5 linked regions of the Homo sapiens genome follow. The protein of the gene in region 1 purifies or fractionates together with the protein of each later gene. This does not show direct contact. Each region holds a gene or a part of one and is shown in the gene's direction. Other genes may lie near its edges.

Region 1 (4,351 bases):
CCAGGTCAGTGCCAGGGCAGGGTGGCCACAGGGCCCTGGGATCTGCCTGGGACCCACCTTGCATTTCTCATCCTAATGGGAAACACTTCACCCACTTCGCTGGGATCCAAAAGGATGATGTTCTGGGAAGACTCTGTTATTTGGTGCCTATTAAGAGGGCAGGTGGAAACTTCTGGTCCAGCAACCAAGGCAGCATCCTGGTATCCAGAAGCATCCAGTGTTTGGGGAATGTTCATCCCAGTGTTCAATGTTTGCCAGTTGTCTGCTGTTCTTACCTCTGAGAGTTTAGCTTCCAGATAACTGGATGCTTGCAATTCTTGCAGCTCGTGTAGTACATGTTTGAGCATCCAGATGTTTCTTTCATCCAGATGTTTCACTTTTTGTGTCCAAATGTCTAGCACTCCTTCAAATGAGGCAAAAGTCTATTGGCCAGCAAATAAATGTGCACATAATGACACCTCTGTTGTCAGACTAACAATGCATGTGGCCATCTCACACAGTTGGCTTATCAGAGGCTGAAGTGCAGAGTGGAAAGCTGATCTGGGGAGGAAGAGCGCAGTGTTGCAGCAAGGACACATGAGTGGGGCCTTGGTTTCTAATTCAGGCTCTTCCACTCATTTACTGTATGACCTGGTTACTAAACCTCTCTGTTCTCACGTTTATGAACTTTAAAACACAATCAGCAGCTGTTATAAGGTGAAAATTAGGCTAGGATATAAAAATATTTTGTAAACTATAAAAGTCAGTGGTTGTTATTTAGCATATTGAAAGAGGGAACCAAAAGTCATGCTGACTAAAGACCTACTATGTGCCGGGAATGTTGTTATTATATTTAGTAGCTGTTATTTCATGGTTATATCATACTTTATTCAATTTTACTTAACTAAATCCTTATACTGGACATTTGGTTCATTACCAATTGTTTTCTGTGATAATCTGTGCTGAAAGGTGGGCCCAAATCTAATCAGAGTCCTCAAAATCAACCCCCCTTTTCCAGCCAGGGTCAGAGGGAGATATGACTATGAAAGAAGGGTCAGGGAGATGCAAACTTGTTCACTTTGAAGATGGAAGAATGTGGGTAGTCGATGCATGTGGGTTGCCAGTGAATGTGGGGGTGACCTCTGGAAGCTGGGAAAGGCGAGGAAATGAATTCTCCCCTACAGCCTTCAAAAAGAACATTGGCCTCCCACCCAACACCTTGATTCTGGACCAATGAGACCTATATCTGACTTCTGACCTGCTAAACTGTAACATAATAATAAATTTGTATGTTTTAAATACGAATAATAATAAAATGGCCTCTGAGCTTCCTAGAAAACAGAGCAAACAGGGAAACATGTCATTTAATCTGTTGTTTTTGGAAAGGAGAAAGCATATTGACTCTTCGGCTCCGAAAAAGGATTTGGGGAAAATGATAAGGAAAAAAACATGGTGGACTTTAACTTTAGAGCTTGGTAAAGGAAAAGAAAAGATCCTGGGTTTCTACAAAGAGATCCCAGCAAGGAGAATCCAGTACTGGGGAATATTACTCACCTGATGCTCAGACTAGGCCACCAGCCAGTGAGGTTTTCCCCACCAACCCTTAGCCAAAGGCAAGCAGTAGAGGTGTCAATCACACCCATGACACTAATACTGACATCTCAGTTACTAATGTGGAATTATGAACAAAGCAATGAAGAAACACAAAACAACCCTTGTTCCCATACAGCAGTGTGGTTGTGCTGAGAAGAGCTCCAGGCTCTGGATCAGACTGACCTCTGTTCAAAGCCCACTTCCATCACTACTAGCCTTGGTGTCCTGGGAAGGCAGGATGCTTAAGCCTCAAAATTATCATGGGTAAAACAGACACAGTACTTCTGACTTCAAAGGGTGCCTGTATGGGTTAAAGAAGATGATGTATAGCCAGGCTTACAAGGTGCTTACCACCACCTCCCTAGTCTCAATCCTCAAGGTGAGCCCACCTGTCACCCACGGGAGCTGGCTGGACCTACACAGAAACATGGGAGAAGTTAGCCATACAGATCCTACTGTCTCCTGCTCAACGAGGTGAACAGCCTGCCCAAGCTTACATAGCAGATCAGAAGCCAGCCTTCCAGCTCTGGGGTGCACTGTGATCCAAGGCTCCCTTCGAACTGCCCACTGGCAGGCCGCTGCCCCTTCAACTGCCAGGAGGCACCCCTTTCCCTAAGCCCAAAGCAGAGGAGGTGTTGCTGACATGAATGTTCCTGCCTGAGTAACTCTGTCTGGTGTTTCTTCTTTGCAGGGGATGCCCCTTTTTGTACCCCTGAGCAGCACAAGGAGTGTGCAGAGCCTGCCCTAGGTCAGTACTCAGGGGACAGATGGAATCATGGGGGCCGGGGGCCTGAGACTGAGATCATGGAAATCATCTGGGTTTGGGGAAAGATCAAGTGGAAGAAGGAATGGAGAGAGGATGAGAAGAAAGGGGCTGGTCGGGTGGAGTTGCTGCAGGGATGGGAGAGGGAGATGGAGAGGAGGAAGAAGAGAAGGTTGGGAAGGGAACTGGTGCAAGAGGATGAGGGCTGGAAATGGGACTGGGGAGAGAAAGAGATATGGAAGGTGGAGATGGAGAAGGAGTGGGTTTCAGGGGAAACAGAGGGTGCTAAGGAATGCAGGGGAGAGGACAGAGGTGGAGAGAGGATAGACAGTGGGCAGCCAGGTAGGCATCAGAGGAGCTTGGCAATACCTCCCCTCACACACTCTGATGGTGTCTACATGGGGAGGCCAAGGTGATTCTGAAGTACCATCTTTCTTCTGCTCCATTGAGCCTAGGGGAGGTGGAGGAGGGCTGGAGAGGTAAAGTCAGGTTTGCATTCCATGCATGCAAATGGAAAACACAAAGCACACTTCTTCCTCCTGCCTGAGGGGCCTGCGGGGGGTCTGCCAGTTAGAAGACCTCTGCTGGTTCCCCAGCTGGAAAACTAGGAGGGAGGGAGAGTGCACAAACAAGCTGCAGCCCCAAAGCTAGGCCCACTCTGCATGCTTGCCTCTCTCTGGACCCAGGAAATGGCTTATAATCAAGACAAGCAGACTTTTTAAACAATGTGCCCTCAAGTTCGTTCAGCATCTGCACTTGCTGGAGCTAAGTGAGGCAGTGCTGGCCTCAGGTCCAGATACCTCCAGGAGGACTAGAGAGGGAGGGCAGGCTGAGAGGAGAGGGAGTGACTTCTGATGTGTGCAAAGACTCAGCAAAACCCAGGGTAGCTGGAAACACTGAGGTGGCTAGAGGAAAAAGGGAGGGAGGTGTTAAAGAAAAAATCACTCTGACACTAGTTAAAATGGTAAGGAAGTCTTTATTCAGGGCAATTGCAACAGGTGTCAAGAGTATCACAACAGGGGAAACAGATGGGACTCAACTGAGAATTCAGCCAAGACAGCTGGAGATTCATAGCCATCAAGCAGAGCGAGGACTCAGTAGATGGAAAATTACCCAGAGAAAACATCAAAGTTAGGGGGAAATCTGCAAAGGCAGGCCAGGGTGATCAGATATCAAGGGTGGGGGATTCTCTCTAAACTGACTTTAGCAGGATTCTTGCTAAAACTGGGCTAGGCCCGCCCAGCATGGATGGGGGCCAAGGTCAAGGCCTAGTTGAGAACAGGGTTCTGAAGAGCCTGGCTAAGTTTGATCAGGGAGAAAGTCTTTGTCAGAGGGAAATGATGCCTTAAACTTTATGTCTAATTGGAAGAAGAGAGGAGAGGGCAGGAAGGGTTCCAGATGCAGGGAGTTGCCTCCAGGGAAAGAAATGAAGGAACTTTGCCTGCATCCTAACCCACCAGGCAGAGAAGGTGGGGCACTGGCTATGAGGGAGCCCCAGCAGGAAGAGCACAGAGCCCTGGGTTTCAGATAAAATGGTCTCCTACATTTGCTTTGATGGTGGATCATTCTCTGTGGATGAGAATACTGAGGCTGGGAGCAGGGAAGAAAGCCATGAGAAGCTGAGGACACCAGGACTCTCTTGGAGACCTCTGCAAAAGTGGTCCCATTTCAACAATTTTTAAAGAGTGACATGACAGTTAAAAGAAGCAGAAGGAAAACAAGATCAACCTACAGCAAAAGCCCAGTTCCCCTCTCTCCACAATCCCTGCCCCTCACTTTCCCCAGACCAGTGCCCCTTCCCAGCTCATTTCTCAGCTGCTACAATCCAGCTACTCTGGACCCTTAGAAATCCCAGTGCCCACACCTGACTAAGCCCCACCTCACTCTCCCCTCCAGGTCTGTTGGCGGAAAAGGACAGCAATTACTGTCTCTGCAGGACACCCTGCAACCTAACCCGCTACAACAAAGAGCTCTCCATGGTGAAGATCCCCAGCAAGACATCAGCCAAGTACCTTG
Region 2 (4,351 bases), on another chromosome or scaffold:
AACAGATATCTATACATAGAAAAATGGTGTTTGCAATATAAATTATCGTTATTTTATCATAAGAGCCACATTTAAGCCAAATACACGTAAATGAAAACCGAGAAATCCAGTTTCTGTGCAAAAAAAAAAAAAAAGAGAGCACTGCAAACAAATGTTCATCTGCCCCCAACTTCTTAATCCTTAGCACAAAACCAATTTAAAGAAGTAATTTATTTTTCTTTTTTGATGTAACACTTTTTAAATGGAAATAACATCTTACCTGGGCCCCAAACTACTTACAAAATGGTTTCCAGGTATTTTGCATATGTTTACATGAATCATCTCACTAAGATCCTGAGAGTGATGTGAATTCTGGCCTCACTGTCTGTGCAGCCCAGGGCTCCATGCACTGGAATTACTTCCCCATCATGGGAGTGTGTGCCAGAGCCCTTCTTTTCTGGCAGCCCTTGTAAGTTTAAAAGAAAAACGGGAGCTGAATGGGTTTGATAAGGACATTGAGATAATGGAGTAAATTAGAATTCGGAGATAAGATGAAAGCTATTATGTAATTATTGAAAGTATAATTAAGTAAACAGTATTGTTTTCTAACTTACTTTAAATGTCACTAAATGTATCCATTTAATAATTTAGCTAATTAGGGTCTTCAGTTATTTTGTGTAACAGATAAATACAGGAAGAGAAAAGAAGGTGCTTGTGGTGATACCCTTTGGTTAGTGATTCCTCTGTAGAAATAGCAAAAGACATATGTGATTGCCAAGAAGGAAATTATCCAGGGCCAGTCAATATCAACTGGACCAATGAGTCACAAGTGACCAGGAGACACCTTATATTGTGTTTAGAGAGAAAGCAATAATTCCATGAGACTTCCTTTGAGTACTGGTATAAAAACCAAGCTTCACTTGTTCCTTTGTTAAGGATTCTGTATACAGTAAGATTAGCTGTTCATACCATTCATTTATACACATAATGGATTGTGAAATGTTAATCCTTAGCTATATGCAGGTGACCAGTATGTCCTGGGTTTTTTAAATCAGTAGTGCATAATCAGAACTGGCTACATCCTTAGCAGGGCTCAGAGCAAAATAAAAATGCAGTGCCCTGTTTTTAAAATTATTAAGGATTTTAGGATGATGACAGAAGAGAATAAAACCCTGGGCATGGGACCCTGTGCGGCTGCACAGATTGCATACCCACGGAGCCAGCCCTGCATTTGATAGCTGTCAGATGTAAAGGCAGACTTCTATTTATATATGCAGCTTTCAGTCAATTGCATGAATGTGTAAATTGTCAAAGAGAAATGTGATGGCCAGGTCCTTACTGTGAGTAAAGGACCAGGAACAGGACCAAAGTTTGAAAGGACTAAAGAAAGCCCCTTCTAACATTACAGCTCTATGTCTCTTGGTTATCTTCAGCCCATTTTCCCTTCAGTTCCTAAAGAAAACCATAGGATAGAATTATATCCTATAATTATAGGCCATATAGGTAACAGGAGGATATGACTTATGTGATATATATTCTTCTTGTAAAAATAATGTCAGGTATTTATCGGGGACTGCAGGGTGGGCCTTCTTCCTCTCCTAGATGAAGAACTGAGGTTCAGACAGCTAATTATGGAAGATAATTAGCTGGGATAATTATGGAAGATAATGCAGCTGGGATCCAAGTTCTTCATCACTCTAGTCCACTGCCTGTCTCATAGGATTCCAGTTGATCCTGCAAGACAAGAGTAGCTTACAAAGGGTTTGCATATACCTTAATCTCATATCTCATTCCCAGTAGCACCCTTGTGAAATTGGCAGTGTTATCCCCAATTTACACACAGGGAAACAGAACTTCAGAGAAGTTATGTCATGTTGCAAGGTCTTAAGATAGCAAATGGCAGAGCTAAAACTAAAGTCTGCTTTTCAAGTCATGAGTCCAGCCATGTTTTCTCTGCTCCCTACTTTGGGGACCCAGCTACTTCCCCTACATATGCCATTCCTTTTCAATCTAACTCTATTGGTTTAATTCTTTTCCACTAGACTTTGTTTAACAGATGTTGCATTTCCCAGAGGAAAAGTGAATCTCCTCTACACTCTAAATAGCTAAAAGTATTATTGATGAAAGGACTTCAATTCCCTATAGAATTTTAGTTCTAGAAGCATATCTGAATAATGTAGGGGTTTTCTTAAGTGCAGTGAGAGGTAATTGAGGAAGTGGAGGAGGAAGCTGCCAAGAGTCAGAGTTCTCTCAAAGATGACTCCAACTTCTACAATTGACCTTGCTAGAAACAAGAAAATGAGACTTAGATATTGGGCCAGGACAGCTCAGGAATTATATCTTCCATTGGGAAAGGCTTCCTGTACCTATGTTACTATGAAATGTTACAGCTTAGTTTCATGCATATGGCTGGTGTGATCCAGTTACTTATTTTAAAAAGAGAGTTGATTTCCTTTGTTTATATGCTGGCAGTGAAAAACAGAATGACAGTTCGACTTAAGAATGAGGGCTTGTTCTCAGTACAGAAACAGAAGTAGCCTAGTTCAAGAAGTGCGGACCACCGCTTTGTACAATGGTCTCCAAACTTTGGTCACTTCATCAGGAAATAGTATGAGCACTTCTCTCCATACATAGTTATTTGTAAAGTATACATGCTTCTGCTATTGTACTCTAAAACGTGCTGTATTATATACCAAAAAAGTCCAAAAAATGAGAAAAAATAAATAGAAATAGGAGTTCTAATATTCTTTTTGCTTCCCCAGTGAATGTCTTGCTCACTTCACTTTAAAAAAACACTGCTTTCTGTGTTTTTGTTTTTGTTTTTGTTTTTGTTTTTGTTTTTCGGGTTTTTTGAGACAGAGTCTTTCTCTGTCGCTGAGGCTGGAGTACAGCAGTGCAATCTCGGCTCGCTGCAATCTCTGCCTACTCTGTTCAAGTGATTTTCCTGCCTCAGCCTCCTGAGTAGCTGGGATTACAAGTGTGCACCACCACGCCCAGCTAATTTTTGTATTTTTAGTAGAGATGGGGTTTCGCCATGTTGGCCAGGCTGGTCTCACTCTCCTGACCTCAAGTGATCCACCTGCCTCAGCCTCTCAAACTGCTGGTATTACAGGAATGAGCCACCACACCCAGCCAGAAAACACTGCTTTCTAAAGAATATGCATCTAGCCAGAACTTTGTGTTTTAACATTTTCGATTAAAAATTGAAATTATATATCTGACATTAACTTAATGATCATCATTTACTTTCATACAGCCCTTATCAATTCCAAAAAGCTATTTTCTTTCATCTAAGTCACAATCACTTGGGAATTTATTAAAATGCAAATTGATGGGCCCCACCAGAGAGCTACATAACAAGAAATTCCTGTGGGAGGAGCCCAGGCAGCCTTTATTTTAACTAGCCTATGTTTTTAACCAGATGATTCTGATGTACACTTAAGTTTTAGAACCCCCATCTATGGCCTGGTGCCATGGCATGCGCCTGTAGTCCTGGCTACTCGGGAGGCTGAGGTGGGAAGATAGCTTAAGCCAGGAGTTTGAGACCAACCTGGGCAACATAGTTAGACCCCACCCAGGTGATTAGGTCAATTGAATCTGACTTTTGTCAACAAATTCTTCTAATATGTTTTTTAAATGCACAAAATGTCAAAGTTGAGATTTAATGATGCTTTTTACAATTTCAGGATTTACTTCAGATGCAATATGAAGGAGTAGCTGTAATGAAAATGTTTGATAAGGTTAAAGTGAATGTAAACCTTCTCATATACCTGCTGAACAAGAAGTTCTATGGAAAGTGAAGTGCCTACAGAAATTTCTTGGATTCTGTATCATCTGGATTAGGAAATGAATTTGTTTAATATTTTTGTTTTTAAACATGATTGAAATCACTGCTTATAAATGTGTGATTTTTTTAAAACGACCAAAACTGTTCTGAAGAATGTACCCAGGTGCCTTTTTGCTAATTTGATACTATAATAGAATGAGACATAAAATGAATTAATGGAAACATATCCACACTGTACTGTGATATAGGTACTCTGATTTAAAACTTTGGACATCCTGTGATCTGTTTTAAAGTTGGGGGGTGGGAAATTTAGCTGACTAGGGACAAACATGTAAACCTATTTTCCTATGAAAAAAATTTTAAATGTCCCACTTGAATAACGTAATTCTTCATAGTTTTTTTAATCTATGGATAAATGGAAACCTAATTATTTGTAATGAATTATTTAGACAGTTCTAAGCCCTGTCTTCTGGGAGTTATCAATTTTAAAGAGAACTTTTGTGCAATTCAAATGAAGTTTTTATAAGTAATTGAAAATGACAACACAATAACACTTTCTGTATAAAAGTATATATTTTATGTGAT
Region 3 (4,351 bases), on another chromosome or scaffold:
CTACTCAGGAGGCTAAGGCATGAGAACCGCTTGAACCTGGGAGGCAGAGATTGCAGTAAGCCAAGATCACACCACTGCACTCCAGCCTGGGCAATAGAGTGAGACTCAGTCTCAAAAAAAAAAAAACCAAAGAACAACAGAAAGCCATTTTTGCAGATGCAGGAACAGGCTTAGAGAGGTTATATAACTTGCCCAAGACCACATCGCATTTAAGTGGCAGAGCCAGGATTGCAACCCAGGTATGTATGATTCCAAATCAAGTGCTCCTTTAATTATGTCCGGCTGCTTAAGACTTTATATTGACATTACGCTGAGATTTAGGTATTTGAATAGAGTTTTAAAATTGTAATATCAGTGTTTAATTGCATTTATTGCTAAGAATGAATATCATTCAGAGAAAATTGAATTTCTGATACAAAGGAATTGGTTTAATGTAACGTCTGCCCCTTGTTTAGATTCATGTAATGAACATAATTATGTTACCCAATGAAACAACTGAATTAGATAGCTTATTTTTACTATAGGAAAGAAAAATCTAGCTGTTTTCCATACGTGCAAAATCACAATGTTAAAAAAGCATTTTTATTTTGGCATAAAAAACCTATTAAACATTTTGTCCTTAAAAGTAGTTATTATCATTTTCATTGTAGAAGATTCCAAAGGATAGTATTGTCTGATAGTGGCTTTAATATACCTTGATTTGAGAGTACAGTATTTTGATGGTGAGACTTCTAATAGAGCAATAGATGTATTCAAAACTGAGGTGTACTCATTGACTACTTGGGAAATTCACTAATTAGGAATTCCTAAAAAAAAAAATTCAGTAATACAGCTTTTTATTTTTATTTTTTAAAAAACAAATATGGCATTGTAGTCCACATATTACAATGCGGCTTGCTTTTTTTGCCTTGAATGTTATACACATCTTTCCAGGTCAGTACATATAGATGTGACTTACTCATTCTATTAATAATAGCTGTATAATATTCCAAAGTATGCATGTATCATAAATTATTAAGCCATTATTCTAGTAACGGACATTCAGTTTGTCCCCCATCTGTCGTGTGTGTGCGTGTGTATATATACATATATATATAATTTTTTTGAGTGTTTCTTTTCTTTCTTGGTATTATAAACAATTATAGGAAACATCCTTATGTGTCCGTTTAACTCATGTTGATGTCATTTTGTGCTAGGATGAATTCTGTATGTGAGATTGCTGGGACAAAGAATATACATATTTTATAATTTAACAGATTTAAAAATCTACTTTTCAACATTTTTTTGTTTTTCAAAAGATGTAGTAATCTACACTGCCAGCACACATTCATTAGCACTAGAAGATAATCAGCTTTTAATTTTTGCCAGTGTGAAGCTGTGAAATGATATATTCAATTAATTTACCTTCTAATTTCTAGGTAGGTTGAACATCTTTACATGTTTATTGCCCTTTTATTTGTTACTTTTTTCTATTTTTCTATTGGGTGGTTTACTTTTTTTTTTAAATATTAGAATTAGTAATCCTTTATCTATCCTATGTCTTTTTTAAATTTTTTTTATTTTTATTTATTTATTTATTTATTTATTTTTTTGAGATGAGCCTTGCTGTCACCCAGGCTGGAGTGCAGTGGCACGATTTCGGCTCACTCCTGCCTCAGCCTCCCAAGTAGCGGGGATTGCAGGTACGTGCCACCACGCCCAGGTAATTTTTGTATTTTTAGTAGAGACAGGGTTTCACCATGTTGGCCAGGCTGGTCTTGAACTCCTGACCTCAAGTGATCTGCCCCCCTCTGCCTTCCAAAATGCTGGGATTACAGGCATGAGCCACTGCACCCGGCCTCTTATTTGTTTTTGTCCAAGTTTGCCATTTGTTTCTTGACTTTATGGTGTGTTTTGCTCATATAGAAGTTTTAAAATACACACAGTTAAATCTATCAATTTAGGGAAGTCGTTTTCATATTTTGCTTAGGAAGACTTACCCAGAGCCAGGATTGTGTACATTTTCTGTATTTTATTATAGTATTTTATAGTTTATTACATTTGGCTCTTTAAACCATTTGTATGTTTACAGAGATTTATCATGATTTTCTCAGTAAATCATTTTTTCCAACTGTATGTTAACATTCCTTCTTTTAATCACATACTAAGTTTTCATATGTTCTTGGATCAATTTTGGATGCTATTTTCCATTAATCAGAGATTCTTTAAACCTCGGGGACCCATAAATAGGCTTCAAGGTATCAGTGAATTCCCTGAAATTATATACATAACTTTCATCAGATTTGCAAAGGAGTATGTGATTCCTTTAATGGCAAGGATCACAGATTTATAGTAGATGTTTCATATTTAGTGGACTTTTTTTTGTTTTTAGTAACATAACGTGCAGATTGTGAGTTAAATTTAGGAGATAAGCTTATTACCTGTGAAAAAGAGAAGTTTTTCAACTTCAAATGAAGTTAATACTTCATTGTATTAAAATGTAGACTTAATTTTCTAGTGAGAAATGGAAAAGGACAGGGAATCCAAATGAAAACTATTTAACTGTGACTCGTTACTATAAAATGTCAGAATTTGTGGCTGGTAAAAAGTAGTTCTTCCCGAATTTCAAGAGCGCACTTGTTGCTAATATTGACTGGTCGAACAGTGCAGTGAAATATTTTCTCACATAAGTGATAGAACTATGTGCTTGGTAACTTTATTTTCTATAGGGTTTTAGCATTGTAAATAATATTTGTTGACTGTATTCTTACATCTCTATATGGATTTATGAGCACATTAGGAATAATCTTTTACATGGGGAAAATAATTGAGAATGGATTATGTAATCATCCATTGGTGAGAATTAATGTTAGTCATTATGTTCTTAAAACTCTACTAGACTAAACAACTAATTCCAGGGCCAAGGTTGAGACTGCTTTTTGGAATTTGGTAGTTTTTACAAGTAAGTTCCTGAAACCATGCAGCAATACCTGTAAGATGTTCCAGAGAATGCTAGATTTCCTCACTTCTGAAATCATTTGGAAAACCTCATAGTAGCTACTGTTTTGAGGACTTTGGGTTAATAGGAATACAGTTATTCTAGAATTGGTAATTGGTGCCTCACTTAGTCTTGAATAGGATGTCTAGTGCCATGGAGTAGTCACCTGAAATAGTTGATCTCAATTAAGATAATTCCAGGATGTCTGTCCACCACTCTGGTAGGCCTTCTAATAGCTTTTTGGCACTTAGAGAAATTGAAATAATAATGAATGTTCAAAGATTGCTCTCCAGAAGACCATTTTTGAAGGATGTACTTATAGATGAACTTCATAATCATGGTTCACTATAGCCTAGTTATTTTTAAGATCTACCCACCTACCAGTACCTGTACTTACGTATTCTGCCTTTCTGCCTGTTAACAATAGATGGTAACTGTCAGTGCTCCTGTTCGGTCATTTGTGCACCTGATTCTGTTGCCTCACTTACCTAAAGACATGGTTCCCGAAGCTTTCCCTCATTCTCCTGTCACAATGTATTCTTGAAAATTGCTAAGAGAGTGGATTTTAAGTGTTTTCACCATACCAAAAAAAAAAGTATGTGAGGTAATGCATGTTGTCTTAATTAGCTTGATTTAGCCATCCATGATATATACATGTTTTAAAACATGTTGTACATGATAAATATATACAGTTTTGTCAATTACAAATAAAAAAAAACTATCTTGGTAAATGTTCCAGGTGAACGTGAAAAATATGTATTCTGTTGTTATTGGCTGAAGTATGCTGTAGATGTCGGTTGGTAGTATTGTTATGGTGTTTTGTATTCTTGATTTTTTTCTGCCTCTTCATCAGTTATGGAGAGGGGTTTTGAAATCTTTGATAATTGTGGATTTGTCTGTTTTTCTTGTAGTTATGTCACTTTTTGCTTCATGTATTTTGAAGTGCTGTGATTAAGTATATGCACATTTAGGCTGTCATGTCTTCTTGATGGACCAACCCTTTTTTTTATACAAGATACCATCTTTATCCTTGGTAATATTCTTTGCTCTGAAACCTACTGCTGTGGTGTTAATGTCTCCCCCAAAATTCACATGTTGGAAACTTAATCTCCGATGCAACAGTATTGGGGCGGGAGGTGGAGGGTGTTTAGGTGATGAGGGCTCTCCCCTCATAACTGTATTAATACTGTTATAAAAGAGCTTGTGGCAGTGTGTTCTCTTTTTTCTACGTAAGAAGACAGCATTTGTCCCCCTTTTGCCATTTCTACCCCCAACCATGTGAGGATGCCACAAGAAGTCCCTCAACAGATGCTGGTGTCTTGATTTTGGACTTCTCAGTTTCCAGAACTGTGAAGAAATACATTTCTGTTTTCT
Region 4 (5,013 bases), on another chromosome or scaffold:
GAATTATGAAATAATACATTTCTATAGTTTAATCCACCCAGTTTATGTGCATCCTTATGACAGCCTTAGCAAACTAATACATTCTACATATATGAATAGCGTTTTAAATGGTGATAATCAAATTGTGGTTTTGTAATCTATAATTAATGTTGTATTTTATCTATGAACATCCCACTGAAAGTATGCTTTTAATTTCCTACTTTATAAACAACTCGGTAATAAATATGCAACTATGTACATGCGGCATTTCTCTTTTATGGATTATCTCCTTTGAATACATTGTAAGACATGGGAATCTAGGTCCAGAACAAGAAAAAATTTCGTTACTGAACACCTTGGGAATGTGTTGCTAAATTGCTTTCCAACAAAAGCGTGATTACAATTTACCTTCCATCTGCTATCTGTTAAGTGATTTCTATACGTTTTCACCAGCATTTGACATTATCATTTGAAGTGCTGTCACACACATTTTGAAGATACATTCAAATTTATTCTTGAGGAGGGGAGGGGTAACGAAAAATACTATAAATTTGGTTGTAACTTTTTTTCTGTCTCTTGCATTCAGGCGGTCACCAGAGGAAATTAGTCAGTGCCTTTAGGCTACACTTAGCTTAACACATTTCATTAAAGAGCCCAGTAGTAGAGAATTCAAGATGGGTGTTATTATTTTAATTTCATGAAATCACTCCTTAATTCTAACTTTCAAAAGTCAAATTTTATTTCTTTAATTGCATGTGGATTGTTATAATGAGGAGAATCAGAACAGCTTATAGGACAATATTTCTTTTCTATTTTTCTTAACACACCATATTTATTTGGAAATTTACCTCCTACATTGTCCAGGGAATTAGGATGGGCGTTGGCCGTTTTTCAGCACTTCCTGGTTGAGGCCAAGGGCTCCACTCACGTGCCTGTCCATCCCTCTACAAGGCTTCCCTGGCAGCTTGTTTTTCCGTTTAAAATTTAACAATGACCAAATCCCAAAAAAGCTACCAGGCTAAGAAATGAAACATCTTTTTTTCTTTTAAGTCCGGAGAAGTGCTGCTGAGCACAGCTGGCTCACTGCTGTTTCTGCGGCCCCCATCTCTGATCCTTTCTAGTCTCCTACCCACCCCCACCCCACCATAGGCAGGCAGAGCCGGATTTCTGCCCTTCAAACCCCGAGTGTGAGGAAGCCTCACCTGAAGTCCTCGCATCACCCTCCACCCTCACGCCCTTGGGTTTTAAAAAGCCACTGCGTTCGTGGGTCACTGCAGGGCGCCTCCGCAATGTCTTTAGCAGATACAAGAGCATCCCTCCCACGGGATGTGCAGTGTAGTCAAGCTGAGTAAACTGGGATTTTTGGCTGCCTTTTCTGCTAGGGTGGGTGGGGAAAGGTATGTCCCCCAAGCGTTCAGTTCAGACTAGAACCTTTGAATCTCTCTCCTGTCTCGGTCTCTCCCTCCACCCCCCTACCCCGCCACCTTTCACGGTGTGGGAGTTCTCCTTTCCCACACCAGAGAGGGGCGCCTTTCTAGCTTCCTTGTCCCCTCGCCCACTGATTAAAAAATGGAGAAAAAAACCAACCCCAAAACCCAAAACAAAACAAAACAAAAGCCCCAAACAAACAAACAAACCAAACCCACCGAAACCAAAACCAACTCCCCTCCCCCAAACCACACAAATGCGGGAGTCATAGCCAGTGGATCCGCTGGTGCTGAACGAATGGAAGCGCGGGGCGGGCCTGCGCGCGCGGCCGCCCTGCCCACGATGCTGTCGCCCCCGCGACCTGTAGGGCCTTCGCTGGCCCCTCACCCTCCTCCCGCCCCGGGCTGAGGCTGCCGCCGGTTTCGCGCCCAGTGCCGAGGCAGCGGCGGAGCCGGGGAAGGTCGGAGGGAGGGTGGTTTCCTCCCGCCCCACACCCAGTCTCCGAGCCGGATATATAGAGTGTCACGTTTGGGAGCCGAAAGACTGGAGCCGTTTCCTTGTGGCTGGAGCGCTTCCCGTAGCCTCGGGGAAGGAGCAGGATTTAGAGGACCACTAGTTGGACCCCATCCTCGTGCTGGAGGAACAGGTATTCCAGGGTCCCCAGCCCTGGCGCTCGCAGAGCCCACGCGCTCCAAAAGCAGAGACCGGACTGGGGGTGGCCCAGGAGGGAGGGCTCGGCTGGGTTCGCAGGGCGGGGCGGTTCCCGGCGGGACCTCGAGGAGGGTGGGTGTGAGGCCGGGTGGGAGGAGAGAAGCATTTGCGGAGGCTCTGCCCCCTGAAGCTGCCCCCGGCTGCACCCCAATCGTCACCGGCCGTTTACGCGCGGTTGGCGTCGGCGGAGCCCGCCAAGGTGGGGCGCGCGGGGGTTGCAAAGGGCAGAAAGCCGGGAAGGACCCAGCAAGGTTAATGTGGGGGGCCGCGCCTTGGGGACTGGGGACCCGGGAAGAGAGGCGCGGGGCCGAGTCCCACCCAGGCCTCCTGGGCCCTTGGGGCTATTCCTGGAGAGAGCGCGAAAATGCCGGGGCCACGTGTGAAACGGCAGCGGTCCTAGGTCCCCTCCCGGTGCCTGGGACCGCCAGGGCGCCCAGTCCTGGTCCCCGGAGCAGGTCCTCGCCAGCCCCCAGCCCCACCCCAGGCTGCGCACGTCCCTACCCTCCCACCTGGGCCTCGCCGGGGTCGTGGCTGACGCGCGCTGGGGCGACTGGTGAGGCCAGGGCGGGCTTTGCCCCTGTAGGAAGTTTTAGACATCTTCCTGCGGCCTGGGCATCCTGGGGGTGTGCAGGGGAGCAGGTGCCAGCAGACTCCCAACTGGAGTAGATGGCTTGCAGGAAGGCTGCTCAACACTCCTAGCAAGTAGAATTACCCGCGGGGCAGTCTCAGTCTATTAAAACAATTCATGCCCAATCGTATCCTACAAACCAGAGGAAGGCGTCTCACCTGCCAGCGGTGGCACCATTTCTTCCACGGTTGAGTTATGTGGTGTGAGCAACCAAGGTTATCGCTGGATCTGCAAGAGTTTGGCCACTCGTTGAATCACGTAAAGTGCCCCCATTATGTGATGAGCAAGGACAGAGTAGGGTCAGAAAAGTGACCAGGGAATTCAGGTAGATCGTGCTTTTCTGTTTGCTAGGTTGAGAGAAATTTGACACTGGGCAAATGGAAATTTGAGAATTACCCCGTGGTTTCAATTACCCATCTCTGTATATTCCCATTTATAAGAGCTGGAGATTTGACTGACAGGTGTAGTTAGTCCAAAATTTAGAAAGGGGGGCAAGGGACTAAATAAAAACTTAAGGCAGCCACCTAAACTGCAAGAGCAGGCATTTCCGCAGAAGGGATATTTGTGTGTGAGACTTCTAGGAGATGGGCATGAGGTTTTTACCAGGCCGACGCGTGTGTCAATATTTCATCGGTAGTATTTCTCAGGATCCACGTCTTTACAGTACTCTTTTCCTAATTCTGAGGGCTGCTTCTGCCCCTGCTGTATTAACAAATTCCTCACTTACTCCTATTTCTAACATTGGGCTATAATTATCTATAAAAGAGATGTAAATCACCATGAGTTGGTAAATCATACAGCTATTAGAGAAATTAAAGTAAATGAAAATATGCTTTCCTTAAAGGAAGCTAAAATGTGACATCCAGTTACAGAGGAAGAGGGAGAGGTTGAAAATAAATAAAATGGCTTATATTAGGGTATCACTTTGGGGTTTATAAAGCATATGATCATCTTGACCATCTCACCATCTGCTTTCCTATCTCCTGAGGAAGAAGCATTCTTGAGTGCATTTGTTTCTGGCAACGTCTCATCAGTGTTAAGAATTCCTTGATTTTGCATTAATTCCCATGCACTCATGAAAACTTACTTATTCACAAATATAGCCTTGTGAAGGATCATGCACAGTGACCACCAGCATGCTTGTCCCTACCAATATATTCTGACATTGTAGGCTCTGTTGGAACATGTATTACCTTTGAAGAGGGTAACAGACCAATTTGAGAATCTGATGAAAGCTATGGAATATGAAAGACAAATGCATACATATTAACACAAAATTCCACCTACAATTTCAGGAGTTCATGGCCTCCTTGATGCCCAGCCTCCTACATTCTAGATGTCCAGAGGCTCCAGGCAGGGCCAGCTTCATGGAAATACAAAACTGCAACCGCACAGGGCCTTGCACTTGGAAGGGCCCTGCGTTTGGTAATGTTCTGCTATCACCGTCTGCTGGCTTAATAATTTTCAAAGAGGCTCTGGATCTTCATTTTGAACTGGGTCCTACAAATTATATCCTGACCCCAGGCTGACAAACTTGGTCTAAAACTAACCAAATAACAGTGTTTGAACAGCAATCCCACATTTACGGTGAGTTCTCCAGTACAAACCTGAAATTTATCTGCTGCTCACTTAGGTGCTCTTGGACATGTCATTCAGTCTTCCTACATTTCAGTTTCCTCATTGACAAAATAAAGACAACAGATGACACCTTCTACTTTCTTTATTTTCAAGGTTGTACTATCTCTAAGTAAAAAGAGGTAATAATTGTAAAAAATGTCTACTTGCTTTGAATAGTTCTTTTCTAAAAAATATGCTGTTGTTGAAGGGTTAAACTTTGCCCTCCATTTTTCAGAAGTAGCTTGAGGAAGGTTGATTGAGCACACTGAAAAGACTGTAGAACCTTTCTGACCCTTATAGTTTGGTGGAAAATAAAACAAAAAGTAGGCAAGTATTCAGTGTGTTAAATACTCCTGAAATATCATTATTTGGACAAAATTAGAATTTTCAACTAAAGGTGCAGAATAACTTCTTGGATCCCAAAGGTAGTTATTGAATTAAATTAATGTTTGGGTCTAATTCATCCAAACGTCGAACGGTGAGAAAATGAGCCAATGACTGAAATTTTTTGAGGGGGTAATCCTTTTTGTTTCATTTAATTTAAAAAATCTGTAAGTTCAAAAGTTTGATCAAGTCATCCTTTAAAATATCCTAGGAAATGCCAAATCAATTTAAAGTACACCTAGTCTCTTGCCAAATACACCTAGTGA
Region 5 (4,351 bases), on another chromosome or scaffold:
AATATGGTGAAATCCCATCTCTACTAGAAATACAAAAATTAGCCGGGTGTGGTGGCGTGCGCCTGTAGTCCCAGCTACTCAGGAGGCTGAGACAAGAGAATAGCTTGAGCCTAGGAGGCAGAGGTCGCTGTGAGCCAAGATCGCACCACTGCACTCCAGCCTGGGTGACAACAAGACTCTGTCTCAAAAATAAATAAATAAATAAATATAAAAATGTAATCTCATTTTTTGGTTTAATCTAAAAAAAAACACCTGTTTTTACAGGGAAGTGGAATAGGTAGGGATTTAAGAAGTAAATAAAACTCTTAAAAAAATAAAGGACCAGCAGATTTAGGGAGCAGCTCATACTTCTAGGGCTGAGATAGAGTCAGGAAGAGTTCTCCATCCCCAGGGCTGAGATCCTGACATTGTTGGCGAAGGCATGGCCTTGGCTCACTGAATGGTAGAAAAGTTGCTGTGATGTCATGCCAGGGTAACGTGCTAGAAATCTGGGAAGTCTGCCCTCTAGGATACTGGGAAAAGCTGTTCCTGGGGATGTGTCCTACTAGAGAAGCTGTTACACGAGTGGTGCCAGGGGAAGCTGCTAGGTCCTGCTGGCCATTGTGCACGCCAGGAGCCAGGGTTTGGTGAAACTGCACAATTGACAGGAGCCAGATGCTATAGAAACCACGGGTGTTACAGACAGGAACTTGCTAAATGAGCATACCACAACCAGGAATCAAAACCTCTCTTCCTACAGTGTATGTTCAGTGACTTCCTGACGAAGCTTAACATTGTTTCAATTGGCAAAGGAAAAATATTCGAAGGGTACAGATCCATGTTCATGGAGCCAGCAAAAAGGATGAAGAAGAGCTTGGACACAACCGATAACTGGCACATCCGTCCAGAACCCTTCTCCCTCTCAATCCCTGTACACTGCGGGTTTCTCCAAATGCCTATTGTCTATGATTTGTTTTGTCCATCGTTCTTAGTCACGGCTTAGTTCAGGTTCTTGCCATCTTTCACTTGTTCCATCAGCCTTCTCTCTCATCCAGTCTAGTTTCTTTGTTTGTTTGTTTTATCATTTTTAAATTTTTTGTAAAGACAGGGTCTTGCTTTCTTCACCAGGCTGATCTCGAACTCCTGGCCTGAAGCAGTCCTCCCACCTCAGCCTCTCAAAAGTGTTGGGATTACAGGCTCGAGCCACCATGCTAGGCCAGTCTATCTTCCTTAGTTCTCCATTTTCTTCTATAAGACAGAACTAATCATGTTACTTAGAGAATTAAATTCAAACATGGCTCTTCACAGTTTGGCCATAACCTATCTCTTTAATTTTTTCTTTCCTTGAATTTTTTGAGATATTCCAGACCCTTGGATGGCTTTTTGTTTGCCCCCGTCCCTAAGCCGCCTTGATCATTTTTAATAGCTTAAAAAGTACTTTTAAGTATTTTATTTCATCATGCCTTTAACTGTCTTTTACTATGTGCTGTCATGTTGTATGCTAGGATACGTAGATGAGTAAGGCATGATCTCTGCCTTTGATCCTTACTATTAGGAAATAAGGTGTATTTTATAGTTATGTTAGTATTGAGAAAATGAATTCTAAGAATATGAGTTATAGCTAATTTAAAAAGTACCGTATTCCCAGACATCAGTCCAGAGCTATATAATCCGTGTCCATGCCTCTTTTAAAAAAAACTTTATTTTTAGAGACAGGGTCTCCCCTTTGTAGCCCAGGCTGAAGTGCAGTGATGCTGTCATAGCTCACTGCAACCTCCAGCTCCTGGGCTCAAACATTTCTCCTGAGTAGCTGGTGCTGCGGGTGCATACCACCATGCCCAGCTAATTTTTAAATTTTTCATCAAGATGATGTCTTACCATGTTGCTCAGGCTGGTCTCAAACTCCTGGCCTCAAACGATCTTCCCACCTTAGCTGTTTTGGGTTTGAGTAACATGTAATTGTTACTTGCCTTTAAGTGCCTCTCTTTCAGCTCATGTGGACAAGAAAATAATCCCTATCCTGTTGTTTAAAAGTGGGTATACACACATTTTTGTGATTTTTAGACTTTTTTGCCTGATTTTCACACAGTTTTGACTTTAATTTTCTTCTTTATTAGAAGATATGGGTAACTTTAGAACCTCTGAGTTCAAGGAAGGATCTAAGCAATGAGGCCAGAGGAGTGAGATGTCCTATGGTAACCAAGCATACCATTTCTTTGTCAAGTGGGCTTTTGTTTATGGCTGCTTAGGGGCTTAAAAGCTCCATGGACTGGTGAGGATTATCATTTGAATGGAATTTCCCCAATTCAAGAACCTTACTATTATCCTCCAATCAGTTCTACACTGTTGGGGAAAATCCCCTGGACCTTATATAACATACTTTGTAACCCTGCAGTTAGTTACTCTTACACTCTTGTCATTATAAATGCTTGATCAATAGTTGATAGACTAGCTCTTGATCAGAGTACCCTTGTATGGAGAGAAGGAAAAAATGCCATACATTTCACTTGATTCTGTGAACCATAATGCTTAGGACAGTAGTGGTTTGGGTTTGATTTAAAAAAAAAAAAAGTTTTTCTCATTCATGCTGAAATGTCATCTCTTTATTTAAGGATACCATTAGGAATATAATTTTTTAACCTATGTCAAACCTCATATGACTGATCTCAGTAAAACGAACTGTGAAAATATTTGCATCAATTTATTTTTAAATATTAAAAAAAGGAAATATATTTGTTAGACTTTTAAAATCTGATTGTTTTAACTGATAATATGTACTCCTTAGGTTAAATATCTTGATAATATTAATGCATACCTGGTTGACCCAATCTTTTACAGCCTTCACTTAACTTAAGGGACCTTGGATTATCTGAACTAAAAATTGGACAGATTGATCAGCTGGTAGAAAATCTACTTCCTGGATTTTGTAAAGGCAAAAACATTTCTTCCCATTGGCATACATCCCATGTCTCTGCACAATCCTTCTTTGAAAATAAATATGGTATGTTAATGTGTTTTTTGTTCCAATTAAATATTTTAGCACTATTAATAATTATAGATACCATTTCTTAGCTTTCACAGTAGCGTTTATTGTGGGCTGGGTTCTTTCCTGAAGTGTTTTTTTTTTGTTTTTTTTTTTGCAATTTTTCATATTGAAATAGTACCAGATTTACAGGAAAGTTGCAAAGATAGTACAGAATTTTGCTTCCACTAATTTTGGCATCTTACATAATCATGTTACATTTGTTAAAACTAGGAAATTAACATTGGTACAATAATTTTTTTTTTGAGACGGAGTCTCCTTCTGTCAGCCAGGCTGGAGTGCAGTGGCACAATCTCCGCTCACTGCAAGCTCCGCCTCCCGGGTTCACACCATTCTCTTGCCTCGGCCTCCCAAGTAGCTGGGACTACAGGCGCCCGCCACCACGCCCGGCTAATTTTTTGTATTTTTAGTAGAGATGGGGTTTCACCGTGTTAGCCAGGATGATCTTGATCTCCTGACCTCGTGATCCACCCTCCTCAGCCTCCCAAAGTGCTGGGATTATAGGCGTGAGCCACCGTGCAGGCCTAACATTGGTACCTTATTTTTAACTAAACTACAGACTATTTGAATTTCAACAAAATTTGTTTTCACCAAATCACTAGTTCTCTGCAAGTGTCCTTTTTCTTTTCCAGGATCTGATCCAGCATACCACATTGCATTTAGCAGAATGGGGGGGCGTTGTTTGTTTTAATTTTAGGTGACACACATTTAATTCCAGGAAACATACTTAATCTTTGAGAATACATTGATTAAAAAAACAGTTGTTATCCCTTTTGTGGAATGTCTACATTTTTTTTTACTTGAATCTCATAACAGTATGGTAGTATAATAAGTGGGTTCATACTAGTCTGAAAAGGGATGTCAACTTTATGAGTTTTTCTTTGGATGGCACTTAAACAGGCCATAAAAATCCAGGAACAAAATAGCAGGTTTGACTAGTTTATAATGAAGGTTTGATTTGAAGCTGTCCTTTGCATAAACTTAATTCATTAATTCTTGACCCTTCCTTTGCCTTTATTTCAGTGTAAGGGCATAAAAAACCGTAAGTGTGAGGAAAAAATGAAATGGTTTTGAGCTTGGGGGCTTAGACTAAAAGTTTGCCTCTGCCTAAAGTTGCCTTCTTATAAAATATTTGGCCCATACCAAGTGTTCAATAGAATAAAATTCTTTTTGTTACTATGTTATTATGATTATTCCTACTGCTCTTCTAGTCTGCATATTTACATTTACTCTTAAGATTGTTCCTCATACCACCAGCTGCTTGCTAGGTTTAGGCAGGCAGAGGTATTAGGAAGAGATTTTTTGACTGGATGCTAAGGGACCTTGAAA

The links.
Region 2: the proteins of ASIC2 (region 1) and IQGAP2 purify together in Homo sapiens (affinity purification with mass spectrometry; one large-scale study listed by BioGRID and IntAct). This does not show direct contact.
Region 3: the proteins of ASIC2 (region 1) and HS2ST1 purify together in Homo sapiens (affinity purification with mass spectrometry; one large-scale study listed by BioGRID and IntAct). This does not show direct contact.
Region 4: the proteins of ASIC2 (region 1) and FAR2 purify together in Homo sapiens (affinity purification with mass spectrometry; one large-scale study listed by BioGRID and IntAct). This does not show direct contact.
Region 5: the proteins of ASIC2 (region 1) and YME1L1 purify together in Homo sapiens (affinity purification with mass spectrometry; one large-scale study listed by BioGRID and IntAct). This does not show direct contact.

What each region holds. Positions count from the first base shown.
Region 1 is NC_000017.11:33,023,895-33,028,245, reverse strand, and holds part of ASIC2 (acid-sensing ion channel 2), read left to right. Parts: coding exon 1-4; intron 5-2,263; coding exon 2,264-2,320; intron 2,321-4,231; coding exon 4,232-4,351. UniProt on the Homo sapiens protein: Forms pH-gated trimeric sodium channels that act as postsynaptic excitatory sensors in the nervous system. Upon extracellular acidification, these channels generate rapid, transient inward currents that fully desensitize.
Region 2 is NC_000005.10:76,703,535-76,707,885, forward strand, and holds part of IQGAP2 (ras GTPase-activating-like protein IQGAP2), read left to right. Parts: intron 1-3,665; coding exon 3,666-3,779; 3' UTR 3,780-4,351. UniProt on the Homo sapiens protein: Binds to activated CDC42 and RAC1 but does not seem to stimulate their GTPase activity. Associates with calmodulin.
Region 3 is NC_000001.11:86,917,406-86,921,756, forward strand, and holds part of HS2ST1 (heparan sulfate 2-O-sulfotransferase 1), read left to right. Parts: intron 1-4,351. UniProt on the Homo sapiens protein: Catalyzes the transfer of a sulfo group from 3'-phospho-5'-adenylyl sulfate (PAPS) to the 2-OH position of iduronic acid (IdoA) or glucuronic acid (GlcA) within the heparan sulfate (HS) chain and participates in HS biosynthesis.
Region 4 is NC_000012.12:29,147,355-29,152,367, forward strand, and holds the start of FAR2 (fatty acyl-CoA reductase 2), read left to right. Parts: upstream 1-1,923; 5' UTR 1,924-2,053; intron 2,054-5,013. UniProt on the Homo sapiens protein: Catalyzes the reduction of saturated but not unsaturated C16 or C18 fatty acyl-CoA to fatty alcohols (FAls). A lower activity can be observed with shorter fatty acyl-CoA substrates.
Region 5 is NC_000010.11:27,144,057-27,148,407, reverse strand, and holds part of YME1L1 (ATP-dependent zinc metalloprotease YME1L1), read left to right. Parts: intron 1-739; coding exon of another isoform or gene 740-910; intron 911-2,817; coding exon 2,818-2,980; intron 2,981-4,351. UniProt on the Homo sapiens protein: ATP-dependent metalloprotease that catalyzes the degradation of folded and unfolded proteins with a suitable degron sequence in the mitochondrial intermembrane region.